2 separate regions of the Homo sapiens genome follow, and region 1 is linked to region 2. Evidence: fine-mapped expression QTL. Tissue or cell type: whole blood. Region 2 holds a variant in brackets; the other region holds the start of a gene. All regions are shown on one strand. Distances are between the middles of the regions.

Region 1 (5,235 bases), 190 kb before region 2:
AAAAGTTCAAATATATAATTATTTGTAATATCTACATTGCCCTGAAATATAAAGTAATAGTCTGAGCAATAGGTCAAAGCTTTAGGTAACATCAAAATGTCAAAAGCAAGTAAACAGGTTAAAACACAGTAATTGGCCAGGCGTGGTGGCTCACGGCTGTAATCCCAACACTTTGGGAGGCTGAGGCGGGTGGATCACATGAAGTCAGGAGTTTGAGACCAGCCTGGCCAACATGGTGAAACCTCATCTCTACTAAAAATACAAAAATTAGCCGGGCGTGGTGGTGCACACCTGTAATCTCAGCTACTCAGGAAGCTGAGGCAGGAGAATCGCTTGAACCCGGGAGGCAGAGGTTGCAGTAAGCCGAGATAGCACCACTGCACTCCAGGCTGGGCAACAAAGGGAAACTCCATCTCAAAAAACAAACAAATAAACAAACAAAAAATCACGATAGTGGCCAGGCACGGTGGCTCATGTCTGTAATCCCAGCACTTTGGGAGGCTGAGGTGGGAGGATTGCTTGGGCCCAGGAGGCAGAGGCTTCAGGGAGCCATGATCAGGCCACTGCACTCCAGCCTGGGCGACACAGCGAGATTGTCACAAAAAAAAAAAAAAAAAAAAAAGAAGAAAACAAAACACAGAAGTACATTGGCTGCTATCCCATGGCCTGAAGCTTCTGCAGGAGAAAGGGAGCAGCCCAGCTCTCCAAAGGCCACAGTGGCTGCCCAGACACGGGGCTCCTGCTGTCACCAGAGAGTGGCTCCTTGTAGAACATTTCCAGGTACCAAACCAGTTAACAAGTATATACTTTCAGAGTTCTCCTTTCAAGATAAACATTTTCCCATTTAAATATGTTTTATGGCCGGGCGCGGTGGCTCACGCCCTGTAATCCCAGCACTTTGGGAGGCCGAGGCAGGCGGATCACAAGGTCAAGAGATGGAGACCATCCTGGCCAACATGGTGAAACCCCGTCTCTACTAAAAATACAAAAATTAGCTGGGTGTGGTGGCGCGCACCCGTAATCCCAGCTACTCAGGAGGCTGAGGCAGGAGAATCGCTTGAACCCGGGAGGCGGAGGTTGCAGTGAGCCAAGACCATTGCACTCCAGCCTGGGCGACAGAGCGAGATCTCTGTCTCAAAAATAACCGAAAAAACAACAACCTAAAAGGTGTGGGCTAAGCTCCTAGGCGAGGGCTAGGAGAAAAAAACATCAGCCCAAAAGCTGAAGGACACAAGGTCTGGTTTTCGGGAGGAGATGCTATCCTATCCTTAGCAGAACCTGAAACAAGGCCGCACTACAGGGGGTGCTCAATGACTGTATCAATAACGTGCCGAGCTACATGACAACAGCAAAATGCAGCTACAGGGTATTTTGCGGACACAGAAACGTTCTGGGCCCCCTACTCGGCAATAACCACCCTAACTGGAAGGCGCTGGAATTCCTGGTGACGGAATCGATCCACAGGCGTGGACTGTAAATTAGTGCTACGCCGGAAACCGTTACTGGATTCCACTTTAAAAGGCGAGGAAGACGGGCGGAGAACATCCACACACAACAGACGGGTTGGGAAAGTCCACGCCGAGGACTGCGCGGATCCCAGCCCTGCCTCTTCCCGGCCCGCCCAGCGCCCACGATCCAGGGCCCCAACAGTCGCTCCGCGCCGAGGTCCACAGCTGGGGGATCCGCGGGCCCACAGGCGCAGGCTCCCCCGCCGCAGGGGCCAGGCGGCCTCCGACCCGCCCCGCCGGGCTGGGCCTTACAGAGCAGAGCCGGGCGGGAGGTGGGGCCCGGACTCCGCGGGGATTTACCTGCAGAGCTCGGCCTCCAGCCTCGGCGAGGTCCCCCGGAGGCCTGCTGGCCATGTACGGCCGCCCCCTCCCGGGCCTGGCGGGGAACCCTGGACTCCAGGCCGGGCCTGGGCCCCACAGCGGCCGAGGACCCGGGCCTGGACCCCGGCGGAGGGCACGGAGCAGCAGCAGCAGCACGGCCATGTTGGCCTGAAAGCCGCGCCTGCGTGATCCGCGGGGCGCTACACGGCGCCTGCGCGGCGGGGTGGGCGGGGTCTGACGTGGCGCCTGCGCGGTCCCCACAGCTGCGCCCCGCCGCGCCCGGGTGCCGCTTGCCGCACCCCCGAGCCTGAGCCCGTCTACCTCGTGGCTGCCTGAGGCCCGGGTATGGGGGCGCGCGTCTGCGAGGAGGTCGCGGGTGCCCTGGTTTTTTTGAAGCCGGCCTTGTATTCCCAGGGCCTGGCGGGTGAATAACCGGCCGGGTCGTGGCTGCGTGGTCGTGCTCCGCCCGCGCCGAGGGGCCTCACGCCCGGGCAGCCTGCGTCACCCGCAGGGTTCGGTCACAGGCGAGGGCGGATGGTGCGGGCCGGAATCCCGCCTGCGAGTAGAGGCCCGCGCTCAGGAGGGCGGCGCCGGAGGCCTCGGGTCGGGAGGGCCCCTTCGGGTGTGAGGAGCGCAGGAAGGGGGCGGTTTTCCTGCGTCTTGAGCCGCCCGAGGACGAGGACTGAAGTTGCAGCCGCCGCAGGGAGGGCAGCCCCGGAGGAGGAGGGTCGTGAGGGAGGGAGCGCGCAGTGCGGCGCGGCCTGGCAGGCGTCTGCAGAGCTCGTCCCGCACACCTCTGACTTCGGAGCGCTCCGTCCTGTGCCTTCGGACTGGCTCACCTCGGAGGCGCTTCGAGCCTCGGTCCTGCCCCGGCCGCTGCGCGAGCCCATCGTAGGAAGCGGGGAGGCGCCGTCTGGAAGCTTAGGAAGAGGCTCTGTTCTCTTCAGGGTCCGCCCTCCGGGCCCGGGCAGGGTCCCTCGTGGGCTCCCAGGCGCGCGGGGTCCTCCGCCACCCCGACCCCTTCCTCCGTCCGCCTTAGGTCTAGAGCTGACGCCAAGAGCTGGAAAGCTTGTTGAGTAGGAAAAGCAAAGACTAGATGGTCTGTCACAGAGGTAGGATGAGGGTGACCTATTTATTTTTATGCTTTTCTGTACTCCGCAAATTCGTAACAGTGAATGCCAGTGACGACAGCCAACATCACCGAGTGCCTAGCTCCGTGTCGAACACCCATGTAATATTCACAACCCTGTGCAGCGAATACAATACCTCTATTTTACATGTAAAGAAAGATTCAGAAGTATTAAAAGTAACCTGCCTAGGATTACAGCTCTGAAGTTAGGGCAGAATTTCAAGGCCGGTCTGGTTTGTTTCTGGACCTGCACTCACTCCACCACTACAGACGAGGTTGCAAAGCCAGTGGGCTGCGTGTAATCCTCCCTCTTCCTCAGCCCCGAGACGCTCAGGAAAGTGTTTTCAGTTATCGTGGTTATCCGCCCTCAGCCCTCCAGTGGGCCGGGTGCCTCGGCAGAGGTGCTCGGGGCTGGGGAGGTGTTCTGTTGGTTTGTGGAGAGGACCTTCCCCTACACCCAGGGCTGACACTGATTTTCACAACTGAACCGCTTTTCCTTTTGCTTCTTATTGTACAGTCAGCCTTCGCAGTGAATCCAACCTTGCCGTTTCCTCCTCCACTATTTTTTCTTTCCCTGATTGAAAGACACCAGGTGGGCCGGGCGCGGTGCCCTCCCCCTCCCTCTCCCTGCCCTTCATCCCAGCACTTTGGGAGGCCAAGGCGGGCGGACCACGAGGTCAGGAGATCGAGACCATCCTGGCTAACACGGCGAAACCCCGTCTCTACTAAAAATACGAAAAATTAGCCGGGCGCTGTGGCGGGCGCCTGTAGTCCCAGCTACTCGGGAGGCTGAGGCAGGAGAATGGCGTGAACCCGGGAGGCGGAGCTTGCAGTGAGCCGAGATCCCGCCACTGCACTCCAGCCTGGGCGACAGAGCGAGACTCCATCTCAAAAAAAAAAAAAAAGGTCACAAATCCTCTGAACGCACAGGCATAAAGGGTTGTGGGGCTCGGTCACTTCCTAGAACACAAAAAACCCTTTCGGAAGTTTGGTTGGGTTGGTCACGGGACAAGGCTGGAGAGAGGGTGAGGGCACACATTTGGATGTGTTTGGGAGGAGTTTAAGTGTAGTCCTATTAATATTGTTTGAGATAAGTTAAAATTGTTTCCTGGCAATTCATCAGAAGCAGTGTGGGGTGTTGGCAAGAGGCCTCCTCTGGGGAAAGAACACTGGGTTCTGTCTCCTCTGGCCTATGACCTTAAGCAAGTTATTAGCTTCCTCAAGCCTCAATCTTCTCAGCGGTAAAATGGGGATGATAATTATCTGCAAAGCAAGGCTAATATCAGCCTTGGGTTTCCCACAGGGTGGTTATGAAGATAAAATGCAATAAATGTGTGTGAGGGCAACTGACGAGCCAGGAAGCCTTGGCATCCAGAGTTATTACTGGGACGTCATGGGAAATGAGGATATGGGAACAGAGTATTTATGCATTTATTCAAACTCATCTCTAACAACCGTGCTTTGAAGGCTGGCTGCATCCCAGGCCCTACAGGTGAACCGTGACTCTCAGCTCTCAGCTTCAGCCCCTGCTGTAGTGGCGGCAGCAGCAGAGGCTCACGTAGCCTCAAGCAGTAGGGGTTTTGTTTAAGGATTCGGGTGCCCCATGGTTTGGGGGTTTTGTTTTTATTTTGCTGCATGATTTGGATTCAAGAAGAAGGATCTGTAGGACAGTGGGCTCCCGGGTCTGCCTTTGCCCTCATAGCCTGCAGCAGAGCAGGACGTTCGCTTTCCCTTCTCCGCCTGTGTGTTCTTCCTGCACTGCCTAACTGCTGCTTGCTCATTTGTGCTTCCGTGTCACCCCTCCTCAGCCCTCTGAACTCTGCACGTCAGGACTTGGCACACTTCCTAACTGCTGCTTACTCATTTGTACTTCCGCGTCACCCCTCCTCAGCCCTCTGAACTCTGCGCTTGGACTTGGTGTGACTTCCCTTCCCCGCCTATTCTCTAGAGGCAGTCTCTTGGTGACTCCTGGTTTGGGTCAGGGCACGCCTTAGGTCTCTGGATGGCTACCAACCCCAGGTTCCCTCAGCTCTAGCCCCATAAGAGAGGAGGCCTCAGGAGCGCCTAGGGCAGCCCTTTCAGCCTGGGCTGTGGGAAGGGAAGGTGGACAGAGAGGAGACCCCATGCCTTTGTTCCCTGTTGATGCAGAAGCATTCTAGGCTCTGTCCCTTATTCCTGCTGTGGGCTGAAGCTTCAGGCAAGGTGCTCTACAAACTTCAGTTGCCTCATCTATCAAACAGTAACGTTTAACATTCCAGAGACAGAAGTTGATCTTTG
Region 2 (5,228 bases):
GGTTGGGGGCGCCAGCCTCCTGTGCAGTTGAAAATTTGTGTAGAACTTTTAACTTTCCCCAAACTTAACTAACAGCCTTCTGTTGACCAGAGCCTTCCTGACCACATAAAGCCAGTCACACACATTTTGTATGTTATGTGTGTTCTGCTCTTACTGTTAGGGTAGAGCAAACTAGAGACGTGAAAATACTGAGATCATGAGGAGAAAATAGACTTAAGCCTCGCGCAGCAGCAGCGGGTCTCCACGAATGGCTTTCGTCCTCCGGGTTTTCACGTTGAGGAGGCTGAAGAGGAAGAGGAGAGATGGGTCTTGCTGTCTCAGGAGAGGCAGAGGTGGAAGAAAATCTGCGTGTAAGTGAACCCACGCAGTGCAAACCCAGACCCAGGTTGTTCATGGTCAGCTCTGCTTACATTCCATCCCTTTATTGAAGGTGAATTTCAACCCCAAAGAAGTCTTTTTTTTTTTCTGTGAGTTTTAAGATTAGTTGTGTCATTACAAGTTTTTTCTTATACGGTCCTTCTCAGGTGTTAGTGTGCAGAACAGAACATGCTTAAAATGCAGGTTTGGGTTCAGAAGGCCCGAGGGGACCCGTGAGTCTCCATGGTCCACGGACTCCCTGGTGATGCCAAGGCCTCTGGCAAGGAGTGCTCCTGGGCAGCCCCTGCCCCGCAGCTGCGGCTCCCCACCCGGCCCCACAGTCCCCGCCCCGCAGCTCCCGCCCCACACCCTGCCCTGCAGGCCCCGCCCCACAGTCCCCTCCCCACAGTCCCGCCCTGCAGCCCCAGTCCTGCCCCGCCCGACAGGTGTCTCAGGGTTGTCCTGGCCCAGCTCAGATCCTAGAAGCCGGGGAGAGGCAGCGCCGGATTCCCCACCAGTGCCTGCTCTTGTCAGCTGAAGAGACCAGATAGGCTGAAATTCCTGGGGGTTTTGCCAAACTGACCTTGCCGTAGTCAGTGTAACCACTTCTGCATCAGGCTTAATCCTGGAGGAAGGCTCTTTGGTGCTCGCTGCATCTCCTGTGGAGCAGAGGGAATCGCAGCTGGGCTCCTGTGTGTGCGGAGGGGGAGGGCGCGGTGCCTGGATGGTTCAGGCGAAGGCTCTGTGCTCGCTGGCGCGTGGTGGGTGCTGGGAAACCTGCCCTGTGCCTTCCCTGGGCCGGTCTTGACAGCATCTGTCACCTCCTGAGTGCTCTTGAAGCCACCTTCCGGGAGGAGCAGGCCATCGTTGTTCCTGTCACGTCTGTCCTGCCAGCCCCGTAGAAGGATTGTCTTTTGAGCCCCATTGCAGGGGAGGTGGAGCCCCTCTGGGCTGCAGGGGCTCTCGCAGTGTGGAGAGGCACAGGGCAAGGACGGCTGTTCCCAGCATCAGCTGGCCCTGGATCCCAGAGCTGGCCGCAGACACTGTCCACTCCGCTGGGCTGAGTTGTGTCTTATTTTGGCACAGATGCGGGGCTGCCAGGTAATGGGCAAGTTCCCTGAGCCCACAGCTTTGGCGCCGTGGCTTCTGCTTCAGGGAGTGTGCCAGTGGCTCGTGTGGGGGACTCCCACCACCCTGGACTCTCGGTGACCCTGACAGTCCACGAAGCTGGGACGGTTGCCATCCGCCAGGAGGTGAAGTAACAAGGAATGCGTGGCCTGGGGGCGGTCAGGGCCAGGTGCTGGCCGGCCCCTCGGCTCTGCGTTTACCTTCCCGCGGCTGTGCCTTGCCGCTCAGCACAGGGCGTGAGTCAGCCCCAGTGGCCTGAGGCGTGTTTCAGTTTCCTGCTGATTCAAGGGTCGTGAGTTTAAAATAGACTTTGCCTGATAACTTGGAAATGAGGGAGATTTAGGCTGCACTTAAAATGAGTCTAGGCAGGGACAGCCAAGTCACCTTCCAGGGAAGAGTCTCCCCCGGGAGTGAGACCCGGTGCCTTCTGTTGTGTGGTCGGCTGTGCAGCATCGTGATGAGAAGGCACAGGGGCTGCGGAACTGTCTAAAGAGGGGACTCCCAGCTTCAAGGACTGTTTTATGTGACAGCCCTGCCAGGGAGGCCTGGGGACATCATCACAGCCCCCACCCTCAGACAACACCCATGAGTCAGCAGAGCCTGTTGGCCTGACTCCTGAGTGCCGTGCAGCCCCTGGTAGAAGTCACTGACACGGCTGAGTAACGGTTCCTCGGCCCTCGGCTGGCTCTGCCATTTCACGGCAAGGGGTGAGGCTGACCAGCCCTGAGCCTGGTGGAGGGAACACAGGGCAGTGTGGGGGCCAAAGGTGCCAGAGGCATCACCAGGGCAGCTTCTGGGAGGACTGGGATGGCAAGTCTTGGAACAGAACAAAAGCAACTGGAGCCTCTGTCCTCATCTGGTCTCTCATTGAAAAAGACTCTAGAGTGGGCCGCGTGCTGCACGCCTGGTGCCTGCAGGCGGGTCCTGGGAGGTGTAGCCTGGGCTAGATGGCAGCTACATCCAAACCAGCTTCATCCACATCCAGCAGATGCTTCAGCAGGACATCTCAGCTGTCACCATCTCCATGACTGTGATGAGGGTGGTGGTTCATGGAGAGGCGGGGGCTGGGGTTGCAGGGCCTCGAGCACATCGCTGCCATCGGTAACATGTTGTAGCCAAGGCCAGGCGGACACGAGGGTCCTGGAAGGGCCACGGCCTGGATGGTCTTAGCTGTCATCGTGCAGGTGGCTGGAGAA[A/G]CGTCTCCAGAAAACACAGCGTACACCTGGGACAACACTCCCGAGTCCCCGGAGTGTTCGCTGTGATGCAGGCCGTGAAAAGTATTTTGCCTGGTGGGTGCGACCCACTTCCTCCACCTCCTGAGTGGACTCCCAGATCCCTGGTCCATTGGGGAAGGTGCCTGGGCAAAGCACCAAGCTAGGGACATGAAGAGAATCAGGTGTCTCAGGAGTGAAGTGATAAGCCCCGCACTGTCGGGGCCCAGACACCGTCCGGAGGCCGTGGGGTCTGCGCCCTGACCACGCCAGAGCTGTTGAGTGTGTCCGTGGGCCACAGACTCACATCTGGGATCAGGACGGTGGACTCTACATGGTGAAGGCCCCGTTTTTCCGTCCTGAGAGCAGACAGTCTGGATTTTTTAAAATGTTAATTCCAGATAATCCTTAAACTTGTAAACATTACCACTGAGTTTCTAGACAGCCATGAGCTTGAACAGCCTTCCGAGTCAGGTGCTGAGATGCCCTTTCTCCAGGCTGAGACATTCCGGTTTTGTGGTGGAAAATTGGAAGAGAATGTAAAATTCATTGGTTCAGGTAGAGAGAGAAAATATGTCTGGCCTCAGGCATCAGGGATGGTGGATGGAAACACCTGCTCACCTGCACCGCGGGTGGAGGTGTCAGGCAGTGAATACGTTGACCCGACCTGTCCCTCTCTCCAGAATAACTTCACCTGTGTTCTTGTACCAGTTAAATACCAAGACAGCAGTTGGTGGGATTTTATCATTTATTTTAGAAAGACAAAGCAGGTCATGAGATGGTGTTGGAGGAGAAGCATCTTGTGGTCTCAGCCAAGCCTGCGTCCAGGGGCAGGTGGCATGCAACGTATCCTTTAGCTGACGGGGTGGAGGTGGGAGAGGCTCACAGTGGAGCTGCCACTCACAGATGGGTCTGCACATCGTGTTTCAAAAGCCATACTTCGTGCATGAGCGAGATGGGTAAATGCAGGGGAGCGAGTTGCAGAAGCTGCTTCTCCCGGCATGGTCGCGCACAGAGGTGCTGCTGTGGCGGAAAGGGCAGAGACGTGCACACAGTTCCATTTGTATGAAATGTTTTCTAACTGACGGTGCGGCGAGGACATGATGGGGGGACAGTGGCTTTGGGTGTGGGTGTGTAGGTGTGTCCCCCATTCCTCTCGTGAGTGCACCCGGGAGGCCTGGCTGTGATGGTGAACAAACCTAGAAGGCCCACAGGCAGGGAGGAGGCCCATGCTCCGAGAGTGTCCATGCCAGGCGTGGCGTGGGGAAGTTGGCATCGCCACAGAAGAGACCAGGACGAGGCTGGGAAGGAAGAAGTGCGCTCGCACCGTGTGTCGCAGAGGGGCAGCCTCACACCACGGGGGTGGGAGTCGGAAGCAGGGGCTCGGGGAAGGCCTCCCCCAACTGCCTGTTGGGTTTCCTGCAGAAAGAGAGGGACGGGGCAGAGCAAATAGTTCGGGAGTGGCTGCTTCGGAAAGTTCTTGCAGGCTTTGTGCTGTAGGGACACTTTCTAGTTTCCTTTACCTGGCTCTGCGCTGGTTTCAGGCAGGGCTTGGCCTGGGCGTGAACTTGGGTAAGAAGGTGATTGGGTTGCATGGGAGCCCTTGGCTATCTAGGAATTTGCCAGCCCTGAGAGAGGGGCAGTCTCTCCCTGGCCAGAAACTTGTTAAGATGGCAAAATTTCCTAAAATAAAACATGATTAATAAATAAAAATAATATACAATTAATACAGTATGTGTCCTCGGATTTCCTGGGAAACCCAGGAGCTGGAGCCTGAGGCCCGAGGGGGCGTCTGCTTCCATGGGCGTGGAGTTGGGACCTCGGAGCTGCTGGGACTCGCTCAGAGACACCCCTTGCCTACCAAGTTAGGGAACTGGGTGTGCAAAAAGCACAGGCCTGGTGGGGACAGGAGCTCCTTCCCAGGTGGTGAGTGGGGCGTGAGGCTGGGGCTGTGGACATGACCTGCCAGACCTGAGGGCTGGGGTACTGCGCTGCGTGTTGTGACCTTGCCTGTAATGCGGGGAAGGGACTGCCTTGTGGTGCCTGACCGTTTTGGGTGTAGCCTGTACCAGGTGGGACCCAGGATCCAGGTGCTGCTGACTGCCACCCAGAACACAGCCACACCCTAGGCCATGCGTCCCTTTCTGCCACTACAAAGTGCTTGACCCTTCTCTGTTCTCCTTCCTGCTCAAAGCTGCCATTCCTGTTGCTGGTGACCCCTTTATGGGAGGCGTATCCTGAGAAGTCCCTTCCTGGGCCTGGCCCGGGCCCCAGCCCTGATCAGAGCAGCTGCCTGCCTTGACTAGTTACTGAGTCTGTTGAGTGCGGTGTGAGAGTGGATGAGTTTTGAGCTGCCTCTGAATTCAGTGAATTGTGTGTCTTCTCTTTTGAAGCAGACGGTTGATGATGAAGCGCCGGCCGTGTAAATGAAGATCGGGTGAGGAGCAGGACGATGCCCAAGGGTGGGTGCCCTAAAGCACCACAGCAGGAAGAGCTTCCCCTCAGCAGCGACATGGTGGAGAAGCAGACTGG

The links. PIP is the estimated chance that this variant, and not a neighbour inherited with it, causes the effect.
Region 1: it holds the start of SPG7, and the variant in region 2 is fine-mapped to the expression of SPG7 in whole blood (TOPMed, PIP 0.98).

Annotation. Positions count from the first base shown.
Region 1 is chr16:89,505,174-89,510,408 of GRCh38, reverse strand. SPG7 (SPG7 matrix AAA peptidase subunit, paraplegin) reads right to left here and starts at 2,006. Exons shown (of 17, transcript NM_003119.4): 1 at 1,809-2,006. The coding sequence starts at 1,991. LOC101927863 (a long non-coding RNA gene) reads left to right here and starts at 2,089. Exons shown (of 5, transcript NR_188547.1): 1 at 2,089-2,172; 2 at 4,262-4,450. RefSeq lists silencers at 1,513-1,632, 1,663-2,222, 2,293-2,502, 2,623-2,692 and an enhancer at 4,512-4,561.
Region 2 is chr16:89,316,940-89,322,167 of GRCh38, reverse strand. ANKRD11 (ankyrin repeat domain containing 11) reads left to right here. Exons shown (of 13, transcript NM_013275.6): 3 at 5,090-5,228. The coding sequence starts at 5,149. LOC128462377 reads left to right here. Exons shown (of 2, transcript NM_001416403.1): 2 at 5,093-5,122. The coding sequence ends at 5,122. LOC100287036 (a long non-coding RNA gene) reads right to left here and starts at 1,716. Exons shown (of 4, transcript NR_168302.1): 1 at 941-1,716. RefSeq lists a silencer at 1,264-1,343 and enhancers at 1,674-2,187, 1,864-2,243, 2,188-2,700, 3,962-4,553, 4,554-5,145. The variant A/G (reference allele first, on the strand shown) is at 2,682.